Homo sapiens: one gene and its partners. The protein of the gene in region 1 purifies or fractionates together with the protein of each later gene. This does not show direct contact. Each region holds a gene or a part of one and is shown in the gene's direction. Other genes may lie near its edges. The genes, in order: ZC2HC1B, DPH1 and POTEE.

Region 1 (4,195 bases):
GGAATACCTCTCAATGTCTTACCAAAGAAAGGACTCACAGCAAAGCAAACTGAAAGAATACAGATGATTAATGGCAGTGATCTTCCTAAAGTATCAACTCAGCCACGTTCTAAAAATGAAAGCAAAGAAGATAAAAGAGCAAGAAAGCAAGCTATAAAAGAAGAGCGCAAGGTAAAATATATTTTTCAAATGTGAGATTTACAAAGAGCTGGTGGAGGGGAAATTAGGGGAATTTTGTAAAAGCAGTCTGTATCAGTTTAAAGATGTGAATAATACAAGTATATTCTTGTACTTATAACAGGAACGAAGAGTGGAGAAGAAAGCTAACAAATTAGCATTTAAACTGGAGAAAAGAAGGCAAGAAAAAGAGCTGCTGAACTTGAAGAAGAATGTTGAGGGTCTAAAGCTATAGACAGTGGAGCATACAGGGCAAGGCACTTTATTAGGGGCTCCTCATCTTTGGTTATTGACTAGAAACTTCAGAAAGACAAAACTGTTTGCCATTTTTACTGGCAGATAAGAGGAAAATACAATATTTGTATTATTTTTATACTAGTAAGTGTCCCCTGCCAACCATCTTGTAAATATTGTAATACTTTAATTTTTAATATTATAAGCTTACATTTGCTCTGAAGTAAATGACTTCATGAATGTGAAATGTTTGATAAATTAAAGGAAAATATCTTCATAACGTGAATGGAATTGGTGTATTCATTTATTTGTATGGTTGTCATAGTTGTTTTTTGCAGATGTTTTCAAATATTTCTTTGAATCCTCTCCACGCCTTTTCAGGAATTACATGGTTTAATTTGCTGTAAATAGAAAAGTGGCCTGGTTAAACTCAATTTTGAAATGCTGACTTTATTCTGTTTAGTGTAAGATGAGTTTTTCTGAGAAGGTTCCACTGTTAGGAAGCTAAGTTTTCCCTTGCTGTATACAAAGGACTGTTTCAAAAGTGTGGCAAAACTGAATATTAAGGTTCTTAAGATTCATATTTCCTGTTATATTACTGGATGACTTGCTTTTGGGATTTAGGAACAGTGAAGGCAGGAAACAGAATAGTCAAGGAAATAAGAAAACTTATTTGGCTTCAGTGAGTCCCTAGTTCAAAATCAGAAATATTTATTTCAGTTTAAACTGGGGAGTTTGTCTTTTCAACATCAGTTAATGCTTGGAACCATTCATACTTGATTAAAATACATCGTTGAAAACTTTCCCTGTTTTTGATGAGTTGATTTTTGTTTTAACTGATTTAAACTTTTTCAAGGTTTAGGCAATGACATCATCACAATTGTTGATTATTTGGTAAACTATGACTTCTTGCAACAGATTAGTGGTCCTGGTTTATGTTCTTGACTAGTATGATGTTATCTGGACTGGGCTGTAAAAATCTGTGAACACTGTTGCTCTGAGTTAGGAACAGAATGGCTGGGGCAGAACCATTTTTGGCAGGTGAGCTGCACTTGATATCTAAATTATTAGAAAATGCCTTCATCTGTAATCATTCATTTATGGCTTTTCCAAAGCTGGTAGGTATTAGCTTGTTCTACCATGTGTGATCCGTTTAAATCTAAGTATTGTAGGATTTTTAAAGAGTTGTCAAAACTGATGGCATTAGGTATTCTACCAACATTGGCTAGAAAAAAATCTTGACTGAAGAGCTTGTCATTGCAGAAGTAGGATACTGGAGAGAATGTATTTAAATGCCAACCTGTGAAGTAAAGGGTCAGATGATGGTTTATGTCAATATTGAGAATGTAAGTACTAAAAGGATTGGCCATTTATTTTGATAGCTGTCTCAACTGAAGATTCTCAAAAACAGCAAGAGTCTTAATAGGCATTGGATGTTTCTTTGTCATGTTACTCAAATTCTGTGTTATGAGGTGCTAACTTCACTGTGTTTAAATCCATATATTATATATTTTGCAATTAAGAGAAAAAGACTAGGCCATGAGTCTTGATGAAGCATATTGTGATTTAGGCAGGTTATACTCCAAACTTAAATATTTTAATTTTATTCTGAAGAACAAATTCATGATACTTTAAATGAATTTTCTGATATCTTGGTTCTCTAAAAATCTATAAATGATGATTGGGAACTGAACATAAAAGCTCCATGCTAAATGTTGGGAGCCCAAGAGATCAGAGGGTTTTTGCCTTCAGGAGCCACATGGTCTGAGGAGGCAGGATAGGTGCAGCGAAATGTAACTGGCAATACTATCGTGGTAAGTACCACTTGTAATTAGAATCTTGGTACTTGCTGTTCCCCCAGAAGTGCTTTCACTGCAGACAGACCTTCCTCATGGTTGGTGCTCAGCTGTAACCTTCACTATAGGCTATTCCCTGAGCTTGTATTTAAAAATCCTGCACGCATCCCTCCCCTGCATCCTTGACCCTCCTTCCCTGGTTTATGTTCTCCACAACATCTGTTGACGCAGAGGACTGTTTTTCAGTCTCCTCTCGCAGGACAAACCCTGAAGGCACAGTGTTTTATTTATTGCTTTATCCTTAGGTCTGGAAGGGTGCCTGGCATTCAGTATACAGTCACAAAGTAGTGTATGAATGAATGGATAGATGGGAAAGATTTCAGAAAAGAATTAAACATAGAACCATAGCAGGGCCTAGAATCACTGGGGTTAGGGAGGAGAGAAAGGCCTAAGAGATCCAGGCAGGGGGCAAAATCTTGAAGAATTTGTATCTTAAACTTTTTTTTTTTGCCAAGACAGGTCTTGCTCTGGCGCCCGAGCTGGAGCGCAGTAGTGCGATCTCATCTCACTGCAACCTCCAACTCCCGGGTTCAGGCGATTCCCCTGCCTCAGCCTCCCGAGTAGCTGGGATTACAGGTGTGCACCACCATGCCCAGCTAATTTTTGTATTCTTAGTAGAGACAGGGTTTCGCCATGTTGGCCAGGCTGGTCTCAAAACTCTTGACCTTATGATCCGCCCGCCTCGGCCTCCCAAAGTGCTGGGATTACAGGCATGAGCCGCCAACACCCGGCCCACCTATTTTGTTTAAGCACTGCCCGTGAATGGTGTAAAACCACTTGGATATCATAGTACCACAGATGCTCCTTGACTCGTGGTGGGATTATGCCCTGATAAGCCCACCATAAGCTGAAAACATGGTAAGCCAAAAATGCATTTACTACACCTAACCTACTGAACATCATAGCTCAGCCTAGCCTACCTTAAACTTGCTCAGAATACTTTCCATTAGCCCACAGTTGTGCAAAACCATCTGGCAATACAGCACGCTGTAGAGTTATCAATTTGCCCTCGTGATCACATGGCTGACTGGGAGCAGTGGCTCACCACTGCTGCCCAGCATCACGAGAGGATTGTACCACTTTCTACTGAATACATATGCTTTCTCACCATCATGGAAAAATTGTTAACTTGAACCATCATAAGTTGAGGACTGTCTGTTACTTTACAAGTCTAAGTGTCTGAAGTGCAGTTACCGCTTGTGTCTATTACCTGTGATGCCCTGTATCTACATCTCCATTTTGATGTCATCAAGTCACCTCAGTTGAAAGAACTCTAACCTCTTGTAACTTTACTGTTACATTTTCAATAATTTTATGTTACTTCTTCATGTGGGTTGACATTGGTATGCTTTATCAGTCTTGTTCCAGTTAAAGGGCAGAGAAGGTAGAAATTCTAATGGCCTTGCATTTTAATTGTGAAACTTACAGGAGAATATTTAAAGCAAACACAGGGCCACTGTTCAAGTTAAGAAATAGAACATAGAAGTCCCCTGTGAATCCATCCTTGATTTCATTTCACTCTTTCCCCTCAGGTAATTCTTGCATAGTATCCAGCTGTCATAGAAGTTGAACATCTCTAATCCAAAATCCAAAAACGTTGAGTGCCAATGTGAGACAACAAATAGAAAATACCGTGTATAAGTACTTAATACAAGCTTTGTTTCATGCACAAAAGTATTTAAAATATTGCAAAAAGTTACTTTCAGGCTGTGTGTGTAAGGTGACATACGAAATAAAGTGTTTAGACTTGGGTCCCATCCCCATGATATCTTGTTCCAAAGTCTGAAAAAAAATCTGAAACACTTCTGGTCCCAAGCATTTTGGATAAGGGATACTTAACCTGCATTAAGTATTTCCTTCTTTTTTAAAGCCACTTGTATAGTATCCTTAAACACAACATCTTGTTTCATTTTGAACAACTGAAATAA
Region 2 (3,651 bases), on another chromosome or scaffold:
GGTGCTGTACGTCTTTGTGGACATCCGGATAGACACTACACACCTCCTGGACTCTCTCCGCCTCACCTTTCCCCCAGCCACTGCCCTTGCCCTGGTCAGCACCATTCAGTTTGTGTCGACCTTGCAGGTGGGTGGAACGAGGATCCTCGGCCTCCTGCAGGGTGGACAGCGGCCACTCTCCAGCTGTTGCGGGATCCCCAGGTGCTCCAGGCTGTTTCTCAGCCCTGGCTCTCCTGCCCCAGCCGCTGGCTTCACTTCCCTCGTCATTCCTACAGGCAGCCGCCCAGGAGCTGAAAGCCGAGTATCGTGTGAGTGTCCCACAGTGCAAGCCCCTGTCCCCTGGAGAGATCCTGGGCTGCACATCCCCCCGACTGTCCAAAGAGGTGGAGGCCGTTGTGTAAGTTAAAAATGGGGGCCAAGTAAGTCCTAGAGACATGCGTGTACCCTGGGAGGGAGCCTGAGGTTCATCATCCAGGAAAGAAACCAAATCTAATGCTCCTTACCTGTGAGCCCGAGGTCACACTGCAAGGTAGGGACCAAACAGGGAGCAGACCTCAGGTTTACTGTCGCTTTCTCCACTGCCCAGTCCATCATCCAGAAGGCTGTGCAGGGTGGGGGCAGGAATCAGAGGGCCTGATGGGGGTTGAGGGTGGGCTGGAAATGGTGGGAATATAATTGGAGAAGATGGATGGGCACGCCCAGGCTGCAGCCCCATTAATTTACCATCCGGACAGCTAACAAGCAGAAGCAGCGTGTCTCCTGCCGCCTAATTATTTTAGGTAATGGAAATGCTTAATGTTGTGTGAATGCAGCCAGCCTGAGAGCCGACGGCTCCCCCGACTGGGACTAGGGAAGGGAGTCCCGTTCCGTACTAATGGCAGGGAGGGAGGGTCGCTCCCTGACTCAGTCCCACCTCTGGGGCTTTGGAGGCTGTTTCCACAGGCCTGACACCCCTGTCCCTAGACAGGCCCACATCAGGGCCTTCCCCAGCCCAGATCTGGCAGCCCTGCTCCCCGAGCAGCACTGAGTGGCATTCCCCCTGTGCCCACGTCACTCAGTCTCTACCCTTGGGGTCTTCAAAGTGTATGTTGGAGGGAGGGACACCCTGAGTGTTAGCCATTCATCAGAATGAAGTGTGGTCTCCAAGAGGGAGAGAAGGAGCTGCCACAGGCAGGTTATCTTCCACGCTCTGTAATCTTCATGGGCTGGGAAGCTACTGTCAGGGACAGCATGTCTGGGGGCACACTTGGTACAGCCTGGGTTGAGCCTCAGACACACTGCTTCCTAGCTGTTTAATACTAGGCGAGTTTCTTAACATCCCTGAGCCTCAGTTGTTACCTTCTGTAAAACAGGTATACTATACGTATCTGGGAGGATTAGGAGATAGGACTGCGTGAACTAATTCACAGCAGGTACTTAGTCTATGCCTGGTACACAGAAGGCACAAGTCCAATAAACAGTAGCTGTTGGCCGGGCACAGTGGCTCACGCCTGTAATCTCAACACTTTGGGAGGCCAAGGCAGGAGAATTGCATATGTCCAGGAGTTTGAGACCAGCTTGGGGAATATAATGAAACCCTGTTCTCTCCAAAAAAAAAAAAAAAAAAAAAAAAAAGAATTAGCTGGGTACAGTGTCCATGCCTGTAGTCCCAGCTCCTCAGGAGGCTTAGGTGAGAGGATCGCTTGAGCCTGGGAGGTTGAGGCTGCAGCGAGCCATGACCGAGTCACTCAACCTGGGTGACAGAGTAAGACCCTGCCTCAAAAAAACAAAATGAAAATCCGGTAGCTTTTGTTATAACTCAGTAACTGGCCCCAAGAGCTAGTTTGGGCAGAAAGTAGCCATTGTATGCCCTGCAACCTCATGTACAGCATAGATCAGAGGTCCCCAACCCCTGGTCCCATGTCCTGTTAGGAAACCTGCCGCACAGTAGAAGGTGAGGGGTGGGCCAGCCAGCGTGACCACCTGAGCTCCGCCTCCTGTCAGATCCGCCGCGGCATTAGATTCTTGTAGGAGCTCAAACCCTATCGTGACCTGTACATGCGAGGGATCTAGGTTGCATGATCTTTATGAGATCCTAATGCCTGATGATCTGAGGTGAGACAGTTTCATCCTGAAACCATCCCCCAATCCCACCCGTGTCTTCCACAAAACCTGTTCCCAGTGCCAAAAATATTGGTTACTGCTGGCGTAGATGACTCCTTGAACACTACTGTCCACATCTGTATTGAGCTTGTGAAGGAGAATCTGTTCCCCAACTTCCAAATGAGGATCTCTAGAACCCCAGGTGGCCTCACCACGGCCGGCTGCTCCTTCACTCTTCCTCAGAAGCTTGGGGTGGGACGGTTCTTAGATTCTGCATTATGTAAATAGAGGGACCGTAGAGTCATCCAATTCAAACTCCTTATTTCACACGTGAGAAAACCAAGGCTCCAAGAGGTGAAGTGAAGGCTTGTCCCAGTTTACACAGAGGCACAGCACAGCCAGCTGTGAACTCAGTCCTCTGGACTTTTTTTTTTTTTTGAGACAGAGTCTTGTTCTGTCGCCCAGGCTGGAGTGCAGAGGTGCGATCTCGGCTCACTGCAGCCTCTGCCTCCCGGGTTCAAGTGATTATCCTGCTTCAGCCTCCCCAGTAGCTGGGACTACAGGTGCCCGCCACCACGCCCAGCTAAGTTTTTGTATTTTTAGTAGAGACAGGGTTTCACCGTGTTAGCCAGGATGGTCTTGATCTCCTGACCTCGTGATCCACCCGCCTCGGCCTCCCAAAGTGTTGGGATTACAGGCATGAGCCACTGCACCTGGCAGCCCTGTGGACTTCTTTTTTTTTTTTTTTCTTTTTGAGACGGAGTCTCACTCTGTCACCCAGGCTGGAGTGCAGTGGCGCGATCTCAGCTCACTGCAAGCTACGCCTCCCGGGTTCACGCCATTCTCCTGCCTCAGCCTCCCGAGTAGCTGGGACTACAGGCGCCCGTCACCACACCCAGCTAAGTTTTTGTATTTTTAGTAGAGACGGGGTTTCACTGTGTTAGCCAGGATGGTCTCGATCTCCTGACCTCATGATCCGCCCGCCTCGGTCTCCCAAAGTGCTGGGATTACAGGCGTGAGCCACCGCGCCCGGCCAGCCCTGTGGACTTCTAAGCCAGCGAGTGCCTCTTCTGCTGCCCTAAACCACACTTAGCCTCCTTTCCACCCCTGCAGGTATCTTGGAGATGGCCGCTTCCATCTGGAGTCTGTCATGATTGCCAACCCCAATGTCCCCGCTTACCGGTATGGGCTGGGCCGGGCTGGGCTGACCAGCTGGTGAGGGGTGAGATTCCCTGCCACTGAGGTCCTCAATTGGTTGCATCCCCATTTCCTGGCCACTAAGCCACCAGCCCTAAGGGTCTGAGGCACTTGGGCCCTGGATCTGGGCATTAGCCCCAGGGCTGCTGTTGCCTACCCGTCTCCTGGGGTTTACACGGAGATCTTAAAGCCGCCCACTCTTGTCTGCTCCAGCTGTGGGACAGGTCTTCCTAATGACAGTCCCCGCTCTTGCCTCTGTTCTTAATTACCTGCGTGGGGCCTAAAGGTTCAGGAGCCCACGGGGCTGAGTCAGGAGCTGTGTGCATAATACTGGTCCTGACAGTGGCTGCCACAGTGACCCTGACTGCTTCT
Region 3 (3,651 bases), on another chromosome or scaffold:
TTAGATGGGAAAAATATTATCATCCAATAACACCATGCCAAATGCTGGTTTAGAAGCAAAGAGCCTTGGAAGCAGTAAATGTTTAAAGTGAGTTTTTGAGATGATTAGAGTTACTGTGGTGAGGCAGAGAAGGGGTGTTTCCAAGGGAAGGAGCAGCGTGTGGGAAAGCACAGAAGAGTGAGAAGGAAGCGAGTACATTTTATTTACTTTCTATGCGTGTAAGTCCATAAGATCTTACATAAAGTTTCCACTTTGGTTGAGGAATATGTACTTTTTTGAATTACATAGGTTTTTGCTTTATATTGTTTTACAGCATGGCCTCACACCACTGTTACTTGGTGTACATGAGCAAAAACAGCAAGTCGTGAAATTTTTAATCAAGAAAAAAGCGAATTTAAATGCACTGGATAGATATGGAAGGTATAGTTCTTTCTTTTAATCTGTGTGTTCTAGATGGACAGCAGTCACTCAAGTCATAAATATTAAATTAATAAGATTAATGTATACTTACTGGGATGTAGTGATCAGTATCAACACAAATCAGTTAGGTAGAAAAACAATTACTTGGGCTGGGCAACATAAAGAACAGTTTTAGTAGGATTCATCTTCTCTTATTATATTGACTGATGTTATTTGTTATGTGACATTTTTGGTTACATGATCTTATGTTAGCTTAAAGGATTTCATATTAATTTTATGAAGTTTGAACTTTAACTTTTAGTTTACTTTATGACTCAGTATTGAACTTCTTAACCCTTTCTAATAGTTTTTAACCTGTGTCTTACATGCTTTTCCATTAAATCTGCTGTATTAAACATAAATAGGGGTTGAAAATCCTTTTGTCTTTTTAATGACTTTGCTTTAAGTTGCTTTCTTTGAAGAATATTAGTGTTAGCTTATCCCTACATGACAATTAATTGCTGTTCCCACATACTGTGGGTTCAACAGCTTTTTTCCTTTTGTTTTTCCAGTGTGTTTTGATGTTTTTATTTTTAATTGGTATGGAGAGAGGGAGTGAAGATAGTTTTAAGTGGATACACTTTTCCTTTAATGAAGACAAGCCGTACGTGGGTGATAAAGAGAAAAGAGCTAGGCTTTGGATTCACACAAGACTGGGTTTAATTAGTAACTTTCTTACTTGCTAGGTGTGTGACCTTGGGGACGTTATTTACCACCAAATATGTTGTCATATATGAAAAGTAGGAGAATATATCCTTCAAAGTTGGCTGTGCATAAGTAAGAAAGATACATGTGGCATTTAATTCAGTGCCTAGCACATGGTTATTGGCACCATTAACTGAAACTCCTATGACTACTATTCTTACCATTATTATTACTGCTTTGAGCATGCAGAGAGCTCTTATTTCTCTTACCCCCTAGCTGATTTTCTATTACAGCATGTCAGTCTAGGGAAGCTGTGACAAAATCTTCACTTAAATCTTTGTCCACCTCAGATAAGTGGCCCTAACATTGTTTCTTGCCCATCAAAGGACTTTAAATTAGTAGCTTCTGCTATGCAATACCCCACTGAGATAAGAGGGTTTTTTTTGGTCCCTTCCTTTTAACCTTGGTGGCATTTTACAAAGATGAACACTTGAGCACTCAAGATGCTTATGTCTTTTAGTGCATGTAAATGTTTGATTCTGCACAGACAGGCAAGATGTTACATTGGTAAAGTATATCAAATTAGCTTTAAAAATAACTTTATTACAGTTCCTATCTCTGTCATTTTAGGACTGCTCTCATACTTGCTGTATGTTGTGGATCAGCAAGTATAGTCAGCCTTCTACTTGAGCAAAATATTGATGTATCTTCTCAAGATCTATCTGGACAGACGGCCAGAGAGTATGCTGTTTCTAGTCATCATCATGTGTAAGTGTTTACATTAAAAGGCTAGTTAATGCTGAATTGAGGTTTAAAATAATTATAACAGTTGCATCTCACATATCAGGTGAGATGTCATAGTTTGGTTCAGGTAGTTTTCGCGTGGCAGTGAGTTAGTCCCCTGCATCAGCCAGAAATCAGACAAAAAGCAAGACAAGTTAGAAGTACCAATGGGTGCGGGATTCTTTATCTCAGGACTTTTAAGATCTTTATCCTTAGAGATCCCAGCATTGTTCATTTGATCCAAGTGTAACACCTATGCAGGGATAAAAAATAGTGTCACATCTTTAATTTTTCTGATTAGTTATTTGGGTCTTGAAATGTCTAGTTTAGCGGAAAGTCTTGTACTGTCTTCTGGGGACTATGTCCTACATACTCCTTGAATTTTTCAAGAACCGAAGGAGTTCACTAAATCCAAGGAAGACAGTCCCTTTTATCAAGTCAGAAGGAGGAGGAAAAAAGACATTGCAATCATTCTGTTGTTTCCGTTGATTTTGTTGCTGCTTTGTGGCCACTCAAACTGGTCCTGCTGCCTTAAGATGAATCAGTAGATTCAGATCCCTCAAGTCTTCATGGCGATTCATACAGTGACTTTGATGTTTTTTAATTCCCATACCTATGCTTATATGCTCAGCCATTGTTCCCAGAGCACCAGCCCCCTGCTCTGGCCGCTGGGCATCTTGACTTTATCCGCACACAAAGTGACCAAATTGACCCTTCCCCACATATTCAGAACCTAATGTGGAACCCACATCTTAGCCAGGAATTAGCTGAGACCTTCATGGTAAGAGATCCTTTGAGGCTGTTGTTGGTCTTTTCTCTGGCAGATGTTAGGTGGGCTTGTTCTAAAGGGTGAGAGGGGTTCAAATAATGTGGCAGAAAGAGGTCAGTGTTTGTTTCCTCTTTGCTACCAGATCTGTACTGTGAGGCACCTTTATATCCTGTATAGAACCCAGTAGAAAGTCCCATATGAACCTTGCCCTGAGCAGTGGCTCCCAGCTGTGGTTGGCCCCTTGAGTGATCTGATTTACATGATAATGAAAATTGTCGGAGCTACTTCCATCTCTAGCTCAAGATTTTAAGATATTTTCAAACTCTAGCTCACAGGAAGCCATTGAAGAGAATTCTCAGAATCTCAAGTAGGTTAGTTGGACTTCACAGAGCCAAGCCTTGTCCATGACGCATCACTAATCATGTGTAAAAGTAGGGCTTTGTGCTTGCTTCGGCGGCACATATCCTAAAATTGGAACAATACGGGGAAAGTTAGCATGGCTTCTGCATAAGGAGGCAGCACAGATCTTTGAAGCATTCCATATTTTGTGCAGTCACTGGAAGGTCATTTGACTATTTGCTGACTAGCTCTGAGGAAATAGTGTGAATCAAAGCAAAATGGGTGCCACCCAAATATTGAAATTGTGATTTGTGCTGCAAAAATAGTCATGTAAGATGGTCTATGAGATGACTTAGACCTGAATAACATGTTCGGTGCAAAATATATTGTTAGTATGTATGTCGAAAATTACAGAATGTCAGCTTGCTACTTCTCTGTGGAAACTAAAAAAAAATAAAAGTAGACTTTTGGTCTCCCATGTCAGCTGGAATTGAACATCAATATAAAGCATTATCCTAACAGACATCTACTGGCTGAGAGTTTGAGTCTGTAGAGAAGGATCGTTGGTCCAAGTCAGGTCTTAACATCCATTGGTTTTTCTGCCCTTGGTGTGATTGATCAACTCCGTAATAGTGGACAATCACATTATCTACTTT

The links.
Region 2: the proteins of ZC2HC1B (region 1) and DPH1 purify together in Homo sapiens (affinity purification with mass spectrometry; one large-scale study listed by BioGRID and IntAct). This does not show direct contact.
Region 3: the proteins of ZC2HC1B (region 1) and POTEE purify together in Homo sapiens (affinity purification with mass spectrometry; one large-scale study listed by BioGRID and IntAct). This does not show direct contact.

What each region holds. Positions count from the first base shown.
Region 1 is NC_000006.12:143,863,116-143,867,310, forward strand, and holds the start of ZC2HC1B (zinc finger C2HC domain-containing protein 1B), read left to right. Parts: upstream 1-1,358; 5' UTR 1,359-1,424; coding exon 1,425-1,452; intron 1,453-4,195. Other genes in the region: protein LTV1 homolog, read left to right, coding at 1-171, 302-412.
Region 2 is NC_000017.11:2,036,560-2,040,210, forward strand, and holds part of DPH1 (2-(3-amino-3-carboxypropyl)histidine synthase subunit 1), read left to right. Parts: coding exon 1-127; intron 128-275; coding exon 276-397; exon of another isoform or gene 398-779; intron 780-2,839; exon of another isoform or gene 2,840-3,195; coding exon 3,196-3,264; intron 3,265-3,651. UniProt on the Homo sapiens protein: Catalyzes the first step of diphthamide biosynthesis, a post-translational modification of histidine which occurs in elongation factor 2.
Region 3 is NC_000002.12:131,226,510-131,230,160, forward strand, and holds part of POTEE (POTE ankyrin domain family member E), read left to right. Parts: intron 1-313; coding exon 314-420; intron 421-1,734; coding exon 1,735-1,872; intron 1,873-3,651.